4 linked regions of the Homo sapiens genome follow. The protein of the gene in region 4 purifies or fractionates together with the protein of the main gene of each other region. This does not show direct contact. Each region holds a gene or a part of one and is shown on either strand. Other genes may lie near its edges.

Evidence for each region. The genes of interacting proteins can lie anywhere in the genome.
Region 1: the proteins of SMAD6 (region 4) and NASP purify together in Homo sapiens (affinity purification with mass spectrometry, with the first as the bait; one study listed by BioGRID). This does not show direct contact.
Region 2: the proteins of SMAD6 (region 4) and ZEB1 purify together in Homo sapiens (affinity purification with western blotting; one study listed by BioGRID). This does not show direct contact.
Region 3: the proteins of SMAD6 (region 4) and ACVR1 purify together in Homo sapiens (affinity purification with western blotting, with the first as the bait; 2 studies listed by BioGRID). This does not show direct contact.

The regions. Positions count from the first base shown.
Region 1 is NC_000001.11:45,607,034-45,612,573, reverse strand, and holds part of NASP (nuclear autoantigenic sperm protein), read right to left. Parts: intron 5,254-5,540; coding exon 4,237-5,253; intron 1-4,236. UniProt on the Homo sapiens protein: Component of the histone chaperone network. Binds and stabilizes histone H3-H4 not bound to chromatin to maintain a soluble reservoir and modulate degradation by chaperone-mediated autophagy.
Region 2 is NC_000010.11:31,324,709-31,330,248, forward strand, and holds part of ZEB1 (zinc finger E-box-binding homeobox 1), read left to right. Parts: intron 1-5,540. UniProt on the Homo sapiens protein: Acts as a transcriptional repressor. Inhibits interleukin-2 (IL-2) gene expression. Enhances or represses the promoter activity of the ATP1A1 gene depending on the quantity of cDNA and on the cell type.
Region 3 is NC_000002.12:157,774,298-157,779,837, forward strand, and holds part of ACVR1 (activin receptor type-1 precursor), read right to left. Parts: intron 4,046-5,540; coding exon 3,834-4,045; intron 1-3,833. UniProt on the Homo sapiens protein: Bone morphogenetic protein (BMP) type I receptor that is involved in a wide variety of biological processes, including bone, heart, cartilage, nervous, and reproductive system development and regulation.
Region 4 is NC_000015.10:66,708,736-66,712,235, forward strand, and holds part of SMAD6 (mothers against decapentaplegic homolog 6), read left to right. Parts: coding exon of another isoform or gene 1-3; intron 4-1,659; exon of another isoform or gene 1,660-1,738; intron 1,739-2,932; coding exon 2,933-2,989; intron 2,990-3,500. UniProt on the Homo sapiens protein: Transforming growth factor-beta superfamily receptors signaling occurs through the Smad family of intracellular mediators. SMAD6 is an inhibitory Smad (i-Smad) that negatively regulates signaling downstream of type I transforming growth factor-beta.

The sequences.
Region 1 (5,540 bases), on a different chromosome or scaffold from region 4:
CTCCTATACCTTTGCTAATGACACCTCTAAAATCTGCAGCCATATATCAACACCATATTTCACCATATTGAATACACTCACAAGTCAACCATCTAAAGGTCAGGCTCCTAATCAATAGCGCTACTGTGATTAGACAAATCAACAATGTTAAGTGATTAAAATAAGCTTTCTGTTAACACAAACAACTCATGAATTGGATATAATATGCCTCTCTCTGCCATCTTTCATTATGCATTTTTAACACCAGCAAAAAAGCTCAAACACTATCTCCAAACACTCTTACTATGGGAATATAAATATGGCAATTAGGACTTAGAGCAATCGTCAGGTCAAAGGAGTTTTATCAGCAGCAACCACAAAGAGATTCCGTTTTCAAAGAAGCTTAGAAAATACTTTAACAGGGTCAGGCGCGGTGACTCACGCCTGTAATCCCAGCTCTTTGGGAGGCCGAGGCGGGCGGATCACGAGGTCAGGAGATTGAGACCATCCTGGCGAACATGGTGAAACCCCGTCTCTACTAAAAAAAAAAACCAAAAAACAAAAAAATTAGCCAGGTGTGGTGGCAGGCGCATGTAGTCCCAGCTACTTGGGAGGCTGAGGCAGGAGCATGGCGTGAACCCAGGAGGTGGAGCTTGCAGTGAGCGGATTATCGCACCACTGCACTCCAGCCTGGGTGACAGAGCAAGACTCCGTCTCAAAAAAAAAAAAAAAAAAAAAAGATACTTTAACAAATTTACTGAGGACATCAGGGCATTGCCATTGATACCTGGGCACAAGTTGGGAAAGGTTTTAAAGTAATGGCAATGGCTGCCAGGCGCGGTGGCTCACACCTGTAATCCTAGCACTTTGGGAGGCCAAGGTGGGCAGATCACCAGGTCAGGAGATTGGGACCATCCTGGCTAACACGGTGAAACCCCGTCTCTACTAAAAATACAAAAAATTAGCCAGGCGTGGTGGCACATGCCTGTAGTCCCAGCTACTCGGGAGGCGGAGGCAGAACAATCACTTGAACCTAGGAGGCGGAGGTTGCAGTGAGCCTAGATCACGCCACTGCATTCCAGCCTGGGTGACAGAGCAAGACTCTGTCTCAAAAAAAAAAAAAAAAAAAAAAAAAAAAGTAATGGCGATGGCTTTCTCCTTAACCTAGCTCCCCACCATTCCTTGAAGATGGTACAGATTCCTCAAGAGGAACCAGTAATATTCTTCTGAAGCAATTATAGGAATTTTAATTTAAAAATTTGATGTAAAACTTCCAAGTAATTAAGATATTTTGTTTCAAATTAGAGGTTGTCTTCTAGTATTCTGGTATGAGTAGGAAGAGATACCAGGTAAGAATAGAAGATAACAATATCAATTTAATTTTTCCTACAAATTGGGAAGATGAAGTATTTACTTTTCTATCAATTATCCTACATATGTAAATCTACTTCAGCTTTTCTGCATATTCTGCTAGAGGATGGGCAGAGTTAATAAGACCATCCATCTGGTCTAACTTTGGGGAACTAAGCCCGGACCCACTTGGAAATGTGGATATGAGAAGATAATGGTGTATGGTGGGCCAGGTGCAATGGTTCACACCTGTAATCCCAGCACTCTGGGAGGCTGAGGCTAGTGGATCACCTGAGGTCAGGAGTTCGAGACCAACCTGGCCAGCATGGTGAAATCCCATCTCTAGTAAAAATACAAAAAAATTAGTCGGGCCTGGGGACATGTGCCTTTAGTCCCAGCTACTCAGGAGGCTGACGTAGGAGAATCGCTTGAACCTGGGAGATGCAGGTTGCAGTGAGCGAGACCGCACCACTGCACCCCAGCTGGGCATGGTGATACACACCCATAGTCTCAGCTGCCTGAGAGACTGAGGGAGGAAGATGGCTTCAGCATAGGAGTTTGAGGCTGTCGTGAGCCATGACTGCGATGCCACTGTACTCCAGCCTGGCAAAAGAGCAAGACCCGATTCAAAGAGAAAAAGAACAGACCAATTATCTTTATTAGAAGCAAATGTACAGCCCAACACATGGCAAAGAGTCAAGAGGTGGCAGTAAACAGGGTTTTAATTTTTAAGTGAAAAAAACTGCTTGGAAGTTTTCTGCAGAATGGTGCTGCCACGTAAAGGGAAATAAAGCACAGAAAGTAAGTGGTTGAGTACTCAAGCCAGAAGTTTGGGTAGCAGGCTTCTCCTTACTGTGTGACTAGGGCAAGTTACTTAAACCCCTTTCTCCCATTTCTTCTTTTGTAAAATATGGAAAACTGTATTGTCTTTACAAGCAGAACAGTATCTGATATACAACACCAAAAAATGCAGCATATGAAAAGCCTGGGGCTTTTAAAATATAGTTAACTTTTTAAATAAGTGACAGATTTTTTTTTTCTTTTGGAAGACAGAGACTCGCTGTGTTGCCCAGGCTGGAGCACAGCGGCATGATCTCAGCTCACTGCAACCTCTGCCTCCCGGGTTCAAGCGATTCTTCTGGTTCAGCCTCCCAAGTAGCTGGGACCACAGGCGCATGCCACCACGTCCAGCTAATTTTTGTATTTTTAGTAGAGTCAAAGTTTCAACATATTGGCCAGGCTGGTCTCAAACTTCTGACCATGTGATCTGCCCACCTCGGCCTCTCAAAGTGCTGGGATACAGGTGTGAAGCTACTGCGCCCAGCCCACGACAAAATTTCTAAGCAGTGGGTGTAGGAAAAGGATGAACACTGTCTTCTTCAATGTGTGGTAACTTGGGAAGAATAATATATTCAAGGCAGATCTGGGTTCAGATTCAGTATTATGACCCTAAACAAGTCATGTAACCTTTAAACCTCAACCTCATCACTGTAACTTGGGCAATACTACCTATCACATAGTATTGTTTTAGGATCAGATGTAATGTATGAGAGTTCTAACAATGTTAATTATGATCCAACGAGTTTTCGAACAATCTGTAAGGGACTGTGATATCTGTATTGTAGCTTACCATTCAAGGTCTTAGGGGTCAGCCAGCAGAGCTTTTTACCATCCTTGCTCACAATCATTAAGATCAAGACATGGGAGTTTTGTTTTTTTGTGTGTGTGGTTTTGTTTGTTTGTTTTTTGAGGAATTTAGTTCTGTGCTTTTTTCCATAAAGAACTCCTAAAGCTCCATTAAGAAACCCAATGGTGCTACCATTTTAGCCAATTCATTTCCAGTTACTGAGCCTGTGTTGGCTGGAGTACAGGGACCTGCACATAGGTAGAAGGAAGTTTACCAGAATGAGTTCAAAGTATTGAAGATGGGTCTCTGAAAATCTAAAACTTACGAGAACTCTTGAAGTAGTCTGGCAATTACAAGAAGTAACAATTAGTTGGAATATACCTGTGGTTATTAATGCCAATGTTAGATGAAACTTATATACAGTAGAATCCTCAAATGATAGCAAAAGTCAGACGTGCCAGTTATGTAATAATTAGAGGCTTATACACCTTAATGAAATTTAATCACACTTAGACCAATAGCATTATAGAAAGCATCCACACTTTATAATATTCTAAGTAACAAAAATTCAGTTTAGCAGCCGAAGCAAGCATGAAATGAGGAAGGAAAACAGGAAGAGAGCTAATGGTTATGTTTTCTGTTGCCTTGGGGAAGGTGGGGGGGGCCTGTTTTAACTAATGTGAATAAGCCTCTAAACACTTCCTGAAGACTTAAAGAGGGGCACCAGAATTCTTTAACTCTGGTGATACAACAGTCAAGGTTAACTGCCTTCATTTAAATGGCATGCCTGCTTCAGTGTACCAATTCAGTGGATTCTACTGCTCTGTAGCTGCTTCCCAACGCACAGAAAAGGAGTCATGTGAACAATAATTTTAAAATCCAGAGGCATGCAAGTGAACATCCATTCAGCATTCTCTGCCAGCCTAGCCCACTATTTCCCTACCTACCCCACCCCTCATCTACCTTTTCCATCCCACTTTATTGGCTAGTATGCTGCAACAAGTTACTGATAGCTAGCCAAGTCTCAGAAATCACACAGAAGGCCTATTTTGCAGTTAGTAAAAGTGTTAGTTTATAAGCCAGCTAAAGAAGACTTGCTGCTTTTGATTGAACTTACTTGACTATCACGACCTTGTTAAACTACCCCCCTTTTCATTTAGCCCTTTCCTAATCCAAAGGCAGACGGAAAATCCTGAATGGAAGGCTGACTTTTACCCATAATTAGTGAGTCAAATCCAGAATGTACTCCACCCACTGCAGCTCTTGCATATCCCGGTTACCTTCACCCTCTTTCATCTGTTCTTCTCTCTCTTGTGTCTCTTCATTAGCAGCTATCTGAACTTTGTCTTCAGGTGATTTCTCAGTAGCTCCCTGGGCTACCTTGGTATCAACCCCATCTCCAGCTGCCTCAGACTCTTCTACAGACAGCTTAGTCTCCTCCTGACTAGGAACCAGCTTTGCCCTGACCTTCTCCTCTAGTCCTGAGCCATCTTTTGTTTCTGTCAGTCTTTCTATAGAAGTCTGTGGTTCAATAGGAGTCTGATCTCCTACAACTGACGGTCCATTGACTGCACCATCCTTAGGGAGAACTGGAGCCTCCTGCCCAGGCTTTTCAGAGACTTCTGATCCAGCCTCTACAGCTGAGGCCTCTGCAGCCTCTGTTGTCACCTCTGGTGACTCTTCAGCAGGTGGTACTTCTTGACCTACCAGTTGTTCAAGAACCGCCTTTCCTGCCTCGTTTTCAGAGGTAACTACCTTCTCCTCTGGCTCGTCCCCACCCACATCCACTGGCTTGACTGTCGGGTCTAAAGACTCTGCTTCTACCTCCACTGCAGTGCCCTGCTTTTCTAGAGTCACCACAGGCTGCTCTTCTGAAACTTCTTTTGGCTTCTCCTCTATGCTCACAATTACCTCTCCCTGCTTCTCCTGACCTCCTTTTTCTCTGCACTCTTCTTGGACATCAGTTCCAGAAACTGATTTTTCTTCCTCAGCATCTGGTACTTCCTGTTCTGGCTTCCCAGAAGTGACCTCAGCTTCATTCGGTCCTTCTGGTGCTGCTCCTCCTTTTGCCTCTTCAGAGGTTTCAGTTAACCAATCTAGAGTCAAGTCAACTTTTTCCTGTGGCTCCTCTGCAGATTTACTTATATCCATATCTTCTCTTCCACCCTTCTCCATTTCACTGTCCTGTTCTTTATCAGTTTCAGGCTTTGCCAAAGACTTGTCTTCTGTTTTTTTGGCTTCTTCTTTTTCTCCCATGGCGTCATAAACCTGTTCTCTCAACTCTTCCCTTGCTTCCTCTACATGGTTAAAGAACATGAAGCATAAACATGTCTTCGAGTTTAATGATAAAGGCATAAATGGAAACTAAAAATACATTCCCTTTAAACCCTCAAAAAGCCTACCAAGTTTCAGCAGATGGCCTAAAAATTATCTGCCCCCTAGAGAAAAGGAAAGGGAGCATCCCGGCTAGCAGAGCAACTTACTGCAAAAGAAACCCAAGCTTGTTACACTAGGTATTGTTTTACTTGAGCATTCTGATTACCAGTTAGGTAAGAGATGCCAAGCTTTTCATTCTCCCCCATCT
Region 2 (5,540 bases), on a different chromosome or scaffold from region 4:
CATTGTTGAAAGAAAACTCAAAAAATTTTAAACTAGAAAAAGTGTCCTGATTAGGAAATATGATAAAATGATTTTTTAAACTACTTTTTAAAGGGTAGATGTTGTACATATTACTGGCTAAATAATCATTCAACTAGATATGAACTAAAAGTAGTAAGCAAGTAGAAATATATGTAGTAGAGAAAGTTTTGTAGCAACCCTAGTTAAAATTAAATTTGATCTATTATGTAGGCATTGCCATATAAACTAATCATTCTTTTGCATGGGGCAGTGTTTTGAGTATTATGTCACTAAAGGAAACATCTTTAGGACATTAGTTTTACTAAATAAAAATTTCAATATGTTATGAGCATGTCTGGATTTTAGCCTTGATGGAGGTGGGTTACGCTGTTAACTTAAAACTGGGTTGCTTAAAAAGATGGCAATATAATACAGTACTTAAGTAGCAAAATGCTCTCTAATAAGTAAAATTTGCTTTATGATTGTTTTCAGAGAAAACAACTTAATTTTTAGAACTTCATTAATTTTGTTAAAGCATATTTTTGGATTATATAATATGGATGTAGATAAATGGAAAGATTATGAAAGGAAAAGCAAAAAATTGAATTCAAGTGTCTATTTGTATTATAGCTGTGAAACTTTAAGCTTTTTTCATTCTCTACAAAGTTACTTTTCTCTTTCTTCAAACAGCTCCCTGTTGTTTAATACACGTTCCCTCTATACATAGGGATTGCATTTATCTGTCCATATGCACATTTCTCCTCCTAATCAACATTATGTATTTATTGAGACTTGGTACATGGAGGTTGAGGTATGAACTATGTTTGTAGAAAACCTTACAGTATGGCAACCTGGGAAAACCTTCATCTCTTTTGCAGTAACAACTACATCTGTGCTGAAATTATTCATAACAGATGTTTTGTGATCTCTTAATTCCCTCCCTCTCCCTTCCCCTCCCCCATTCAGATTTAAAATTAAATGTGAATGGAAGATAAATTTATAAATTATGTTAATTTCTTTTTATTGTTTTATTCTATATTGAAAGTCCTCTGTTTTCTCTTTTTAAAATATTCTAATTTTAAATGTTTAAGATATTTTAAGTACTCTGATTTCAATTATCTTTTAATAAAATATGACACCATTATTTATATATCTGTTACTATTCATGCTCACGGCCTAAAATATATTCTGATTTCCCTTACTCTTAAGGTCTTTGTATTCATTTAATCCACAATTCTAGCAGAGTGTTTGGTTTTGGGTTTTTTTTTTTTTTTTTAAGTAGATAGTGCTGAGTGTAACTAGTTTGCTGATGAAAAAAACTCATTTTCTTGGAATCATATATTTTTAATATGGAAGATTCATCTTTTCCAAAATAACTTTTTATCTGAAAACTGACACAGATAAGCTGAAATTTAGGGTCTTTAAGTAGAAACTCTAGAAGAGACTTTAATGTGTGTTTTAAGAAGGGGTAATGCCAGGCAGATACAGTGACATATGGAATAACATGTAGTGAAATCCTTCAAGGAGTAGATTTTCTGAACCTGGGCTCAGGGTAACCTTGCTCTGCCTTGAATACTTGAAAAGGCTGTCAAAATCACTGTATCTCTTTAACGTTTTCTCCTTTCTACCCTAAAGTTAAGTTGCTATTTGCTCCTATTGCTACATCACTTTTCTGAATCTCTTTTGATACACTTGGCTTTTGCTTTATTTGGGAGGGAGAAAGTAAAGGAAGGAGGAATTGGAGTAGACAAAAAATAACTTTATATGAATAAATATTCATTAAGAAAATGAAGTGGAATAATTTTGGACTGGAGAGATTTGGGAGAATCATCCAAAGCCATTTTGCAGTAAAGCAGACAGTCAAAGAGATAAGATGACTTTGCCAAGTTTATGTTACTAGTTAGCTTGGACTAGGTCACAGCTTTTTGGGTTCCTAGTTCGGTATTCTTTTCATTAGGTCATTTGAGCATATTTATCTAAGACGGTAACAAGCAAGAACTAGATACCATGAATTTTCAAATTTATTATACTTAAAACCAAAATGTGTAGAATGCTTCATCATCTCAAAGGCAAGTTCTAATACATATGCATACATCTGTCAAATTTAGTAGTTGATGTAGTTATATCACTTAAAATATTTCAGATGCAGAGCATTAGTATTATTTAGAGGCATCCTCTCATTTGGATTATACTTTTGGTCACTATTCCCAATTTCAGCTCCCATTCACTCTATCCTTCCTACCTTGGACCCAATCTAATATGTTTTTTATATGCTGTTGGTTTTGTAGCTAGCCTTGTAAAATTTTGTACCTCTTTTGTGTGTTTTGTATTTACATAAGTGCTATAAGTGCTACTTTGCTCTATCATTTACTTTCTTTTTCTTTTCTTTTCTTTTTTTTTTTTTTTTTTTTTTGAGACAGTTTGACAGTTTGACTCTTGTCACCCAGGCTGGAGTGTAAAGGCGCGATATCAGCTCACTGCAACCTCTGTCTCCCAGGTTCAAGTGATTCTCCCGCTTCAGCCTCCCAAGTAGCTGGGATTACAGGCACACACCGCCATGCCTGGCTGATTTTTGTATTTTTAGTAAAGATGGGGTTTTGCCATGTTAGCCAGGCTGGTCTCAAACTCCTGACCTCAGCTGATCCACCTGCCTCAGCCTCCCAAAGTGCTGGGATTACAGGTGTGAGCCACTGCACCTGACATATAATTTACTTTCTTTACTTAGCATTGTTTGATAGCTAGATATGTTGCTATATGTACAGCTAGTTCATTGCTTTTAACCTTGCAGTAGTTCATTTATGTAGTAAGCACAAATTACCTATCAATTCCCCTAATGGCAGATTCCCAGATTGACTCCAATTCTTAGATACCAATAATTCTGTAATAAACATCCTCCTACGTGTTGCTAATGGCTGTGGAAGAGTTTCTCAGCACTACCATATCTAGGGACATGGTATTGTCCAGACATAGTATTGCTGAGTATAGGTCAATCACATATTTAATAATTACTAAATTCTGTCAGATTATTTTAAAAACAGCAACACCATTTTTTACGCTCACCAACAATGTAAAAGAACTATTTTCTCACGTTTTTGCCAGCCTTCGGTATTGTACAACATTCTACATTTTGCTAATTTTTCAGTTGCTAAATATAATCTGATAGTTGCTTTAATTTATGTTTCTCTGTTTATTAGGGAGGTTGATCATTTCTTCATATCCTTGCTAGCTGTTTGGGTTTCCCTTTCCATATCTGGCCTATTCATACCCTTTACCCCTCTTTTTGGATAGATTTCCATTTCTCTTGTGTATTTAAGATGATAATCCCCAACGTTTCAGTCATTTGACTTTGGTACAGGAATCCTTAATTTTAATGTCAAAATTTTGACTTTATGGGTAGTAAGAAGTCCTTCCTAATCTATAGATTATAAAGATATTTTCCTGGATTTTCTTCTATTAGTTTCTTAGTTGTATTTTTTGTATTTATATGTCTAATGCATCAGGAGTTCACCTTTTGAATACACCCTTTCTTAAGAGGAACAAGTATAGCAGTTAAGAGTTTGGGTTGATCCTGTAACTTACTACCTATCACCCTGGCCGGGTTACTTAGTCTTTTTATGCTTGAGTTTCTCTGCATGTAAATTGGACATGACAGTCTAAGAATTGGGAAAGTTTAAATGAAGCATATGACGCATTGTGCCTAATACATGTTTTAAGTTTTCAACACATGTTCATTTAAAATTTTACTTATTTATTTTAAATATATCTTGGATCAGCTGACAATTTTTTATCCTTTTGACCAGTATTAACTCCAGCTAATGTAACTACCATCTGAAAGGGGGTTGCTGTAAAATTTGTACATTGTTTGTGTAACTTTGACATTTAACATTGCTTAGTTCAGACCTTGGACAAAGCTGTTAAATGATCAATAGACACTGAAGCTTCATCTTAATGCTACTTTTGGTATGTCTTTCAGCTTTAGGAAGGATTCCTTGGATCTTTTTAAGGGCCATTATATGAGAGAGACCTTACCATATCACTTTTATGTATAACATTGACATGAACTTCAAGGATAATGTCCCATTGTTATTCTGTTACATAAATCAAAGAACTCAAGTCCAAGGAATAAAAGCTGTGCATTCTATATTTGAATAGTCTAAGCAACATGGAGTCTGCACCTTCTCATATATCCATTTGGCTGGGAATGTATTTAAGAAGATGGCTGTCTTACTGTGTTCCTATGGTATAGATCAGGACTATTCTAAGCCAAAAGTTAAAACCATACCCTGGTGTGTGTGTGTGTGTGTGCGTGTGAACTTAATTGAGGTATAATTTATATACAATAAGATATACCACTATGCATGTACATTTTGATAGAGTTTTGACATACTTGCATACATGTGTAACTGCTACCACAGTCAAGATGTAATAGAACATTATTTCCATCATCCTAAAGAGTTCTTGTGTACTTAATCTCAGCCAATCTTCCCCACCTATTGCCCCCTAGCAATGATCTGCTTTTGGTCACTAGAGGTTAGATTTAATGTTTCTAGAGTTTCATATAAACCGAATCATGCAGTATGTCCTTTCTGTGCACCTTCTTTTGCACAGGATATTATCAAAATTAATAAGTATCAGTAGCTCATTCCTTTTGTATTGCTGAGTAGTATTCCATTGTATGAATGTTATATCACCAAATACACAATTTGTGTCGCCATTCACCTGCAGTGGAACTATTAACTTGGGTTGTTTCTGGTTCTTTGCTCTAATGAATAAAGCTACTGTGAACATTTACATAAAATTTATATGCATATATATCTTACATTTTTCTTGAGTCAATACTTAAGAGTACAGTTATAGTACAGGTAACTGTACTTCTAAGTACATATAGTAAGTATATGTTTAACTTGGTAAGAAGCTGCAAAATTGCAAACTGCTTGTAACAAACATTTTTACATTTCCACCAGCCATGTATGAGAGTTCTGGTTGTTCCACATCCTTGCAAACAATTGTCCATGTTTTTAATTTTAACCATTCTAGTAGATGAGTGGTAGTATCATTTTGGTTTTGATTGGATTTCACCGGTGACTAATGATGTTTGAAGATCTTTTGGTGTATGTATTGGCCACTTGTATATTTTCCTTTGTGAACTGTCTGTTCAAATAATTTGTCCATTTTTAATTGGATTGTTTGTCTTTTTATTATTCAGTTGTAAGAGTTCTTTGTATATTCTGGACCAAAATTTTTTGTTGGATACAAGTATTAAAGATATTTCTCTCTTTCTGTTGGCTTATCAGTTTTCTTAATGGTACCATTGAAGTGCCAAAGCTTTAAATTTTGATGGAGTTTAATTCATAATTTTATTCATTTAAGCTTTGTGTCCTTTCTGAGAAATCTTTGCCTATTCCAGATCTTCAGGATTTCTCCCATGTATTTTTAGAAGCTTATAGCTTTACCATTTAGGTCTGTAATCCATTTCAGGTTAATGTTTGGTCTTAACTCACCAGAATTTGGCATAAGAATTTTTATTTGAAATTTTTAAA
Region 3 (5,540 bases), on a different chromosome or scaffold from region 4:
CGTGGCCTGTTAGTGTACATGTAAAGCTCCTCTGGAAGAAGGAAGAAGGACTGGTTTTATTGTTTTGTATTTTTTATTTTTTTTGAGACGGAGTTTCACTCTTGTTGCCCAGGCTGCAGTTCAATGGCGCAATCTGGGTTCACTGCAACCTCCACCTCCCGGGTTCAAGTGATTCTCCTGCCTCAGCCTCCCAAGTAGCTGGGGTTACAGGCACGCGCCACCACGCCCGGCTAATTTTGTATTTTTAGTAGAGACGGGGTTTCTCCATGTTGGTCAGGCTGGTCTCAAACTCCTGACCTCAGGTGATCTGCCTGCCTTGGCCTCCCAAAGCACTGGGATTACAGGCATGAGCCACCACGCCTGGCCAGGAAAAGTTTTATTTCTTCGGAATACTAGAAGCTAGCACTTCACCTAATATATGATAGGTTTTCCCGAAGGATAAGTAGTCCTTTCTTATACACAGAGTTTCCAAATAAAATATATAATGAAAGAAGCTGAGCAGACAAAGTTGAAGGTGTAAATCAGAAAGCCCAAGAAGCAGATATGATCTCAAGGAAAGCAGTAGAGAGAATAGCAGGTGGAACAGAAAAGGGTGGGGGGGGTCCTTTCAACTTCAAGAACTGGGTATAATTTACATATTTTGCTATTCTCACTAAGTATCTGTCAAATGATTCACTTTAGTTGCCATACCAACTAAGGAACTCTAATTAGGAACAAACAAACTAGGAATAAGGAACAAACAACTCTAATGTGATTTGTAACGAAAAGACTCCAATGACCATGTGGATCATTAAATTGGTAAGCGCAGGCAGCAACGGGCTGCCTGGATGGAGGTTTCCTTTTAGGCAGGTGAGGAGCAAAACTATATCAACACCTACTTATCATTTCTTAATGTGAATCACTCACAAATCAGAAAAGAAAACAAATAAAGCTTTCATTGAAAACATAAAACCAGTGCCCCAAGTCAATGTCTACAAATGAAGGTGTTGGCAAAAAGATTCCCAGTTAGTTCATTGATAAGGTTTTCCTTCTTACTCTCAGCATAAGCCAAGAAGCAGGTATCAGGCATAGATTATCTGTAATAAACAATATTGTGCCGATGGGTGATAAAGGTAGAGTTGCAGTAATATTGACTTAATATTCCCCAAAGCTCATCCTTTCCCAAACATTTTGGCTGGCCTACTAAAGCAATACATTGATTTGTGTGAATTTCATCTTCTTTCACTTCTTCTGAGCACCACTGTGAAGTACTGTTGATCGGCAAAATTACCAAAAGCTGAGCATCCAACGGAAGAAATTTAGAACCCTTAAAAACCACAAAAGGGATAATCAACAAGAAAATGAGTGTAGATGAAGCAGAGTTTCATATCTCCCTAACCATTTTCTCTCTTGCGGTTCTTTTTGCTCCTTATTCATTCATTCTTTTTCGAGAAGAATAATTCTGAAAATTAAACTAATGTGTTATTTTTTCCATAATGTATGATCCTGCTTCTAAACCCTGTTCACAGACCTAAGGAAAGAAAAATAAAAAATCAACCCAAGACTAACAAACGTATATCCCAACTCTCAGATGCCAAGCCTTCTTTTTGTTCTTTTCTTTTCTTTAGTTCAAGACAGAGTTTCACTATATTGCCCAGGCTGGTCTCTAACCCCTGGTCTCAAGTGATCTTCCCCCTTGGGCTCCCAAAGTGCTGGGACTGCAGGCATGAGCCACCATGCATGGCCAAGGCTTGTTTTTCAATGTAGACGTGCTGTTTAGTAAGGGCATGCTTTGTTGAAACATACAAATGAGCATATTGCTTAAATAAGCAAGTATGTAGACCAATAATGACAACTTGTTTTAAATAGTGTTCTTTACTGTGTTATTATATCATGATACACTGTCACATGACATGGTTGAGTTTAAAGGACTATTTTGGCATATGCTCCATTCCTCTCTCAAAATTCTAAAAGCCATTTAAACAGTAATTTATACCAGATATTCCTATTATTGCCCTTGGTAATTAGTTATGTTAGCAGCTCTGAGGAATGAAGTTCTAACTAACCTATTTTAGAATCTTGCTTTGCTAAAGCTTTGTCAGGATTCATCCTCACATCTTCTTGCTACTAACTCAATAAACTCATTTAATTTTCCTTAAAGCTTGAAATAGACTTCTAAGTATATATCTAACAAAAAAAATTGTATTTCTCTACTTTTTGAAATGAAATGTCCTTATACTGCATTCTCTTTCCCCAGTTCCACTGTACCACAGTTTAAACAGTAGGTAAATGGAAGCTACAGAAGGTTACTTCCCCCTTTTACATACCAAAAAGTGGCCCAGTGATGGATGGGGCAGGCAGTAGAATGGGATGTTTCCCAGCCCATATCAGGCACTACCAAATGTCTGTGACAACCTGCCACAGGTGGGTCCTGCAATTGTCCAGGTGTAGCATCTGTGCTACCCAGATGGTCACTGGTGAGGGGAAGTCTTCTCCAGCATAAGGGGAGCTGCAGGGCAAGTGTAACTGCAGAACTATCAGACACTTTGAAGCTTGCTGTCTAGCAGAACAAGACTTACTGCAAAATGATTTCAAATACACATGGGCAATGGCATTAAGTAAAACTGAATCACATTAGAAAGTTATTACTTTGATTGTCTTTCAATTAATCGGATTGTGACAAGGAGTCTCAAATTGGTATTGGCATGTCTCTTGCACTCACTTAACACCCACAAATCTCAAATTTTTCAGAGTAGGCATCAGACTCAGCATAATATCCATGCAGAATGTTATTATTTTTTCTTTTGCACTTTATGATAACCTTCTATTTAGAGCAAGTGATACCCTTTCCCCACTTAAAGTTCAAAGCGTCTTTAAAATGAACACTTGGTAAGCAATTTTAAAAGGTAAATAGAAGGAGATAGTCATTTTTTAATGTGATTTTATCATTTAAAAATATGCAAAAGAATAATTTTTTAATGTATAAATACAATAGTTTCTAACACTGTGCAGTCCAGCGGGTTAATCACTAGCCACACATTGCCATGAGCAAGTAAACTGTGGCTGGTGTGAATTGATATATGCTATAGGTGTAAAATACACACAAGATTTTGAAAATTTACTTCAAAAGCAAAAAGAATGTAAAATTTACATTAATAATTTTTTAATCGATTATACGTTGAAATGACAAAGATGGTATGTATTTGGTTGAATATCTGTTAAAATTAAATCTACTTTTACGAAACTTTTTGGGTTTTTTCATGTGTTTGTTTTTAAGGTGGCTACTTGAAAATTTTAAATTACATGTGATGCACATGTTTCTATTGGACAACACCGGTTTAACCAAATGACTGCACTCCACAAGAGGGCACCACAGGAGCATACAAAATTTAAAAGCTGCTTTTTTGGATGTCAAGTTTTTAAGCCTTAAATTACAGGATGCTGAAATAATCTAGAAAGGAAATTAATATTTAATATTCAGCAAAAGGTGCCTTTTTAAAGGAGCACTTTTATGGCTAAAAATAGAGTAACTGAAGACCACAAATTCCAACCCTCCAAAACTGTAGGCAACCATTCTCTGTCTCTTTTGCTTTACCCCTCAGAGAAAAGTAACTAACTACCAACACTACTAAAATAAATCCCATCCCTTATTTAAATGTCTATCTAAAATGGCTGTTCTGATATGGGAAGACTACACAGGTGCCAGCATGTGCTTGTTTAGGACATAAGTAACCAACAGCATGTGTGTACACTGTTCAGTCACTCATTACTGGTTAGCGTTTCATGCTCGAAATAAGAACGTGTCTCCAGACACCTTCCTTATGCTTGGGATTTCCTGTGGGGTCATGACTTACTGCTAAAGTGCTGTCTCCAACATTGGTGGTGATGAGCCCTTCGATAGTGCCATACTCCACGTCTCGGGGATTGAGGCGTTCTTGGTTGCGCCTTTTAAATTTTCGGAGAGCAACTCCCAGCAGGCAGGCTAAAAGACATACTGCGAACACTACAGAGAGAATAATGAGGCCAACCTCCAAGTGGAAATTCTGTGTTCCAGGGAAGGATTTTCCTGGAGTTGGAGGGAAAAGGGGGAATTAGTTGTAAGGATCACTGCTTACTTATTATTAGCATAACCAATATCCTAACAAGTAGCTCCTGATCCTGACCACACAGTCTCACAACTCACGAAGTATTAAAACTAAAACACTTCCTAATGCCTGGCCAATGGCCCAGACATTTTAACCATCATTCAATTAGACACAACTAGAATTTGAAAAAATTCCACTGAGAATCAATTGCATTAATGTATGAATGTGAGAGTGCTTTTAAAATATAAAGTACTGTACAAATCTTTGATATTACTCTCATTAACTTGGATTTGGTATGTTTCGCCATCAAGCCCTTACAGACACTGTACTATCCTTAAGAGAAAGGGCTACCTGAGCTAAAACCAAATTACCCATCTGTGGTCTCTGTCTTTAATATATCCTGGGTGTCTACTGCTGGTTTCTCACTGATTTTTTTACATCACAATTTCTGCCTAGGAACCCATTCATTCCTCTCTTCATTTACTCGCTTATTCAGACATTCATTCACTGATTCACTCCCTGGGTTCAGACCTCTCCATGACATTATGTCATCAGGCCCTGTTCTTCCCTACAGAGGCCTTACCCATTTCCATATTACTGGTCTCTTCAGCCATCCAATCACAAGCTTAACTTCCTTTACGTATTTGTTTAACTTTCCAAGCCCAACTAATCAACAGCTTGGCATACATCATACTCCATGGCATATGTCATTTGCATGAGAAAGTGTAAAACTAACAAAATGCAACGCTGAATTATAAATACTGTGGCCACGCTAATCAGATTAGAATGTCCTTAAATTCAAAAAAAAAAATCTTCTATTAAAACTCAAGGTCTAGCAGAGTGATCTGCAGATTAGAAACTTCACAGTTGGTATAATAATGTTTGTATGAATTCAGACATTTGTTTATGTCCATCCACCCAATTAATAAAAATTTAACTCACAAAGTATAACAGTAAATTTTATTCCATCAAGGACCCTTTTAGTTTTAACCATGTAAATACTTGATCTCCTTTAAAACCCTCTTTGATTATTCAATCCTATTTGCTTGTCAGAATTTAACCTTTTCCATATGCCTTAAAGTCATCACCATAACTTCAAAATTACTAGAACATGATCTTGCATCAGCTTTTTTGTTCTTCTGCCTCCTTTCTTGCTGGCTGACATTTCTAGTTTTGGATGCTCGTCGTTACCTCTCCTCCACTTTTTGGTTTGTTTCTTTTTTCTGAGTGCAAAATTAAATAACTAAACCTATTAAAAATGTACTATATGGTAAGAGAATAAATTTGGCTTGGAATGAGTTTACATAAATGTTTGCAGAGACTTTAAGATTGCAATTTAGGGCTCATTTAATAGGGAAACAGTTTCAGAGCTGGACTGGTTTCCTTAGCATATGCAATCTGTACTGATGGTAGAGAGAAGATTCCACAAAAACTACAGGGTTTGTGCGAAATCTCATCCTGCTTCAAATTTCAGTG
Region 4 (3,500 bases):
AAAGTAAGTTAGTGGTTGCCCAGGGTTTTGGGGTTGGGGTCTAGAAAGTGACTGCCAATGGGGATGGTGTTTCTTTTTGCGATAAAAAAAATGTCTTGTGTTTAGATGGTGGTTGATGGTTGCACAACACTGTGAATATACTCAAAAACCACTGAATGGTATATTTTTAAAAAGGATGAATCTTAGGGTATGTGAATTATATCTCAATTTTTGGAAAGGGTCACCTGATATTGGTCTGTAACTGGCCTCCCCTGTAACACCTGCAGCTACCTTCATGTGTGGCCTTGGGCAGGTCCTTCAGCAAGTGGGACCTTAGTTTCATATCAGTGAAAAGAAGGAATTGAGTTGGGTGAACCCCAAGGCCTCTTCTGTCTTTGACACTCTAAATCCTTGTGTTGTGGGGTGGAGTCTAAAGCCTTCATACTTTTTTAGTTGCCTACAATGGAATTTAGTGATTAGCTTTCAGTCCCTGCAGTTGTTAAACAGTTGTGTGCATACTATTTTGCCAGAGCTAATGGGAGCCTGGTGAGGTCCCTCCTGAACGGTTTGTAGTGCTCCACTAGCTGGCATGTCTCATGGTTCAGGTTCATAGATTTTCTTTCTATCTCACAACATTGGAACTCCCAACTCAGCTATGGCCATGGGTAGCAGGTGTCACAACTCAAGGCCCAGGTAGCTCTTCCAGGTGGGACTTCATGAGCCTTTCCTGCCTTCCACCTTTTGAGTCCCAGGTAAGCAGCCCCTGGAAGAGATGCTGGCATTGGTTACAGAGGCTTGACTCCAGCCACTACTGCCCATAGTTGTCAAGATTCACCTTTGGGGACAAATCTTGGGGGCAGATGTTCAGAGCTCCATGCCATGTGTGGCCTAGACCTCAGCCAGTCAGATTTTTGCAAAAGTAACCCTAAGGAATTGCAGGCTTTCTGATAAGTTCATGGGGGTGGTGGAAAGGGCATGGAGGTCAGAGACCTGGCTTTGGTTCTGGCTCGATACCTAGCTCCTGAGGGAGTCACTTCCACTCACCAGGCCACAGTCTCCTTCTCTGTACAGTGGAAACACTGGCCTCAATTCTCTTTTCCTGTGGAACTCCAGCCCTTCCTATGCCCTGCCTCTTATCCTGAGAGGCTGGTCCTCACTCAAGGCTGGCCTCTAGGCCTGAGAGCCCCCTAGATCCTCTTTCTGCACATCTTTGGCCACAGATGCATTCAACTTTACCATTATCCTCATCCCAGTTGTCTGTGTCCACATTTAGTGAGCGCGTTCTGTGCAGGTGGTGTCCCAGACCCAGCGGGGATGAAGGGGTGTAAGACAGGGCATCTCTTGATTCCACCTTATTGGGTGGCAGAGCAGAGTCAGGCCTGGACTGGAATCCCAGCTCCACCATGACTGGCTCGGGGAACATGCGCAAGTCAGTTTTCTCATCTGTAAAATGGGGATAATAATGTCATCTCATTTAATTTTTGTATTTTGAGAAAGGATTAAATAAAAATAGGTGCCTGATGAGCATAATTAACTACTCTGTACCTGAGGTCTAAAATAGTAAAATTGAAAGTGATTGGCATGGAGTGAGACACAACGTAGACACCGAGCAAATGTTCGCGTCTCTCTCAGTGGCTACTCTGTGATTCACTTTTCCTTCTCCCTAATTTCTGTCCACAGAAAGTCTCTGTTTCTAAACCTCAGAGCTTTGACTTTGTTGGAAGTAACTTTGAGCTGGAAAAGCCGGGGTGGGGAAGAGGTGAGGCCTCATTGGGTGTATGGAGCAAAACAAATGCTCCTGTAACTAATTGTGGCTTATTACAATTGTGAAAAACACTTATTACCCCTTGTGTCATTACTGATACCCGCTTAATAATAGTTATTACCACTGAGAGTTTGTTTTAGTTTGCGATTTGATTGTGTTTAGTTTCATTTACCGAAAATGAAGGGTCATTTCATTCATGCAAATTGTTACTTAGTTTAGCAAATTGTTACTTCCCATAAAGCAAGAAGCTAAGGAATTCTTCTGAAAGCAAAGTATATGTTTTTAAGGAGAAGTATTTTAGGCAAATGAAACCCAAAGAAAAATATCATAGACAATAAGGAATCATAGCATCTGAGCTGTAGAGAGCTTGTGTTCCACCCCTGTCCTTTACAAAAGGGGAGACTGAGGCCAACAGCTGGAAGTGACTGGCTTAAGGCCTATTGAGATAGCTGGGTTTGGCCTTTTGGGTCCTAACCCTTTCTACTGTCCTCCCCTGCACCTAGGAATGCTAGCTCTAATGCAGCTTGTTTGGACACGAGTTTCTGTGTCTGGGCCTTTGCACTCACACTAGGCTTGCCAAATTTAGCAAATAAAATGCAGGATGCCCAGTTAAATTCGAGTATCAGATAAACAACACACCATATTTTAGTATAAGTACACCCCCAATATTGAAAGGGACACACTTATACTACAAAATGATGCCATGTTTATCCAAAACTCAAATGTAACTGAGCATCCGGTATTTTATCCAGCAACCCTGGCTCTGACTTTCCCTGCACTCACGTTTCTCTTGTTAAAGTAGTAACAGTTACTGTTTATGGAGGTGTTTTTGGACAGGGCCAAGAGCTGCACTAAGCATTTTACATACATTATCCCAGCAAACCTGGGAGGTCTAGATGATTATTATCCTCATTTTAGAGCTGAGGAAACAGGCTCAGAGAGGTGAAGTAAGTTGCTTGAGGTCACACAGCCAAAGGTGGCAGAGCTGGGATTGAGCCCATATCTGTCTGTGCCCCAAGCCTGCGGCTTTAACTGTTGAGGGGATTTGGGCAGCAGAGGAGGTGGGACAAAGGGAGGGCTTCCTGGAGGCTGAGTTTATTATTTGGGAAACCAGTAATTAAAAGCATGTAGAACCTGAGGTGTGAGCTCCCCAACCCTGGCAGTGACATGCTGTCTCCTGTCTTCCAGAATCTCCGCCACCTCCCTACTCTCGGCTGTCTCCTCGCGACGAGTACAAGCCACTGGGTAAGTGTGCCCTCCTTCCTACCCTTGCAGAGGTGTGTCCCGAACTGGGTCCTCTTCAGCCCAGTGTCTGTCCAGCCTCAGGGCTGGAGGGCTGGAGGGCTGGAGGGGAGGGGTGAAAGCCGGACTGGTTGCTGTGAAATGGGGTGAAGTTGTACAAACACTCCCACAGTTGGGCCAAAGCAGACCCAGCTTCTGCAGCAGGCTATTTACATCTCGAAATTCCGCGGCTCATCATTAACCTCTCTGTGACCTTTTTAAACATGGGCCTGTCGAAGATGAATGGGTTTTGACTTATGCATCTCACCGGAGGTGGGTTGGCATTTCTGTGTCTCTTTCCTCTCTCTTGGGCCCCCCAGCCTTGGGTTATTCTCCTTTAGAGTGTATTAATTAGTAGTATGACAAATAGGTTGGGCATGAAGTCTTTGTTGAGAGGAGCTGTACATTTTCCCCCTTTTTAAGCCAAGATGTTCACTTGAGCAGAAACAACAATTGGAGTGTTAAAAAGGAATGT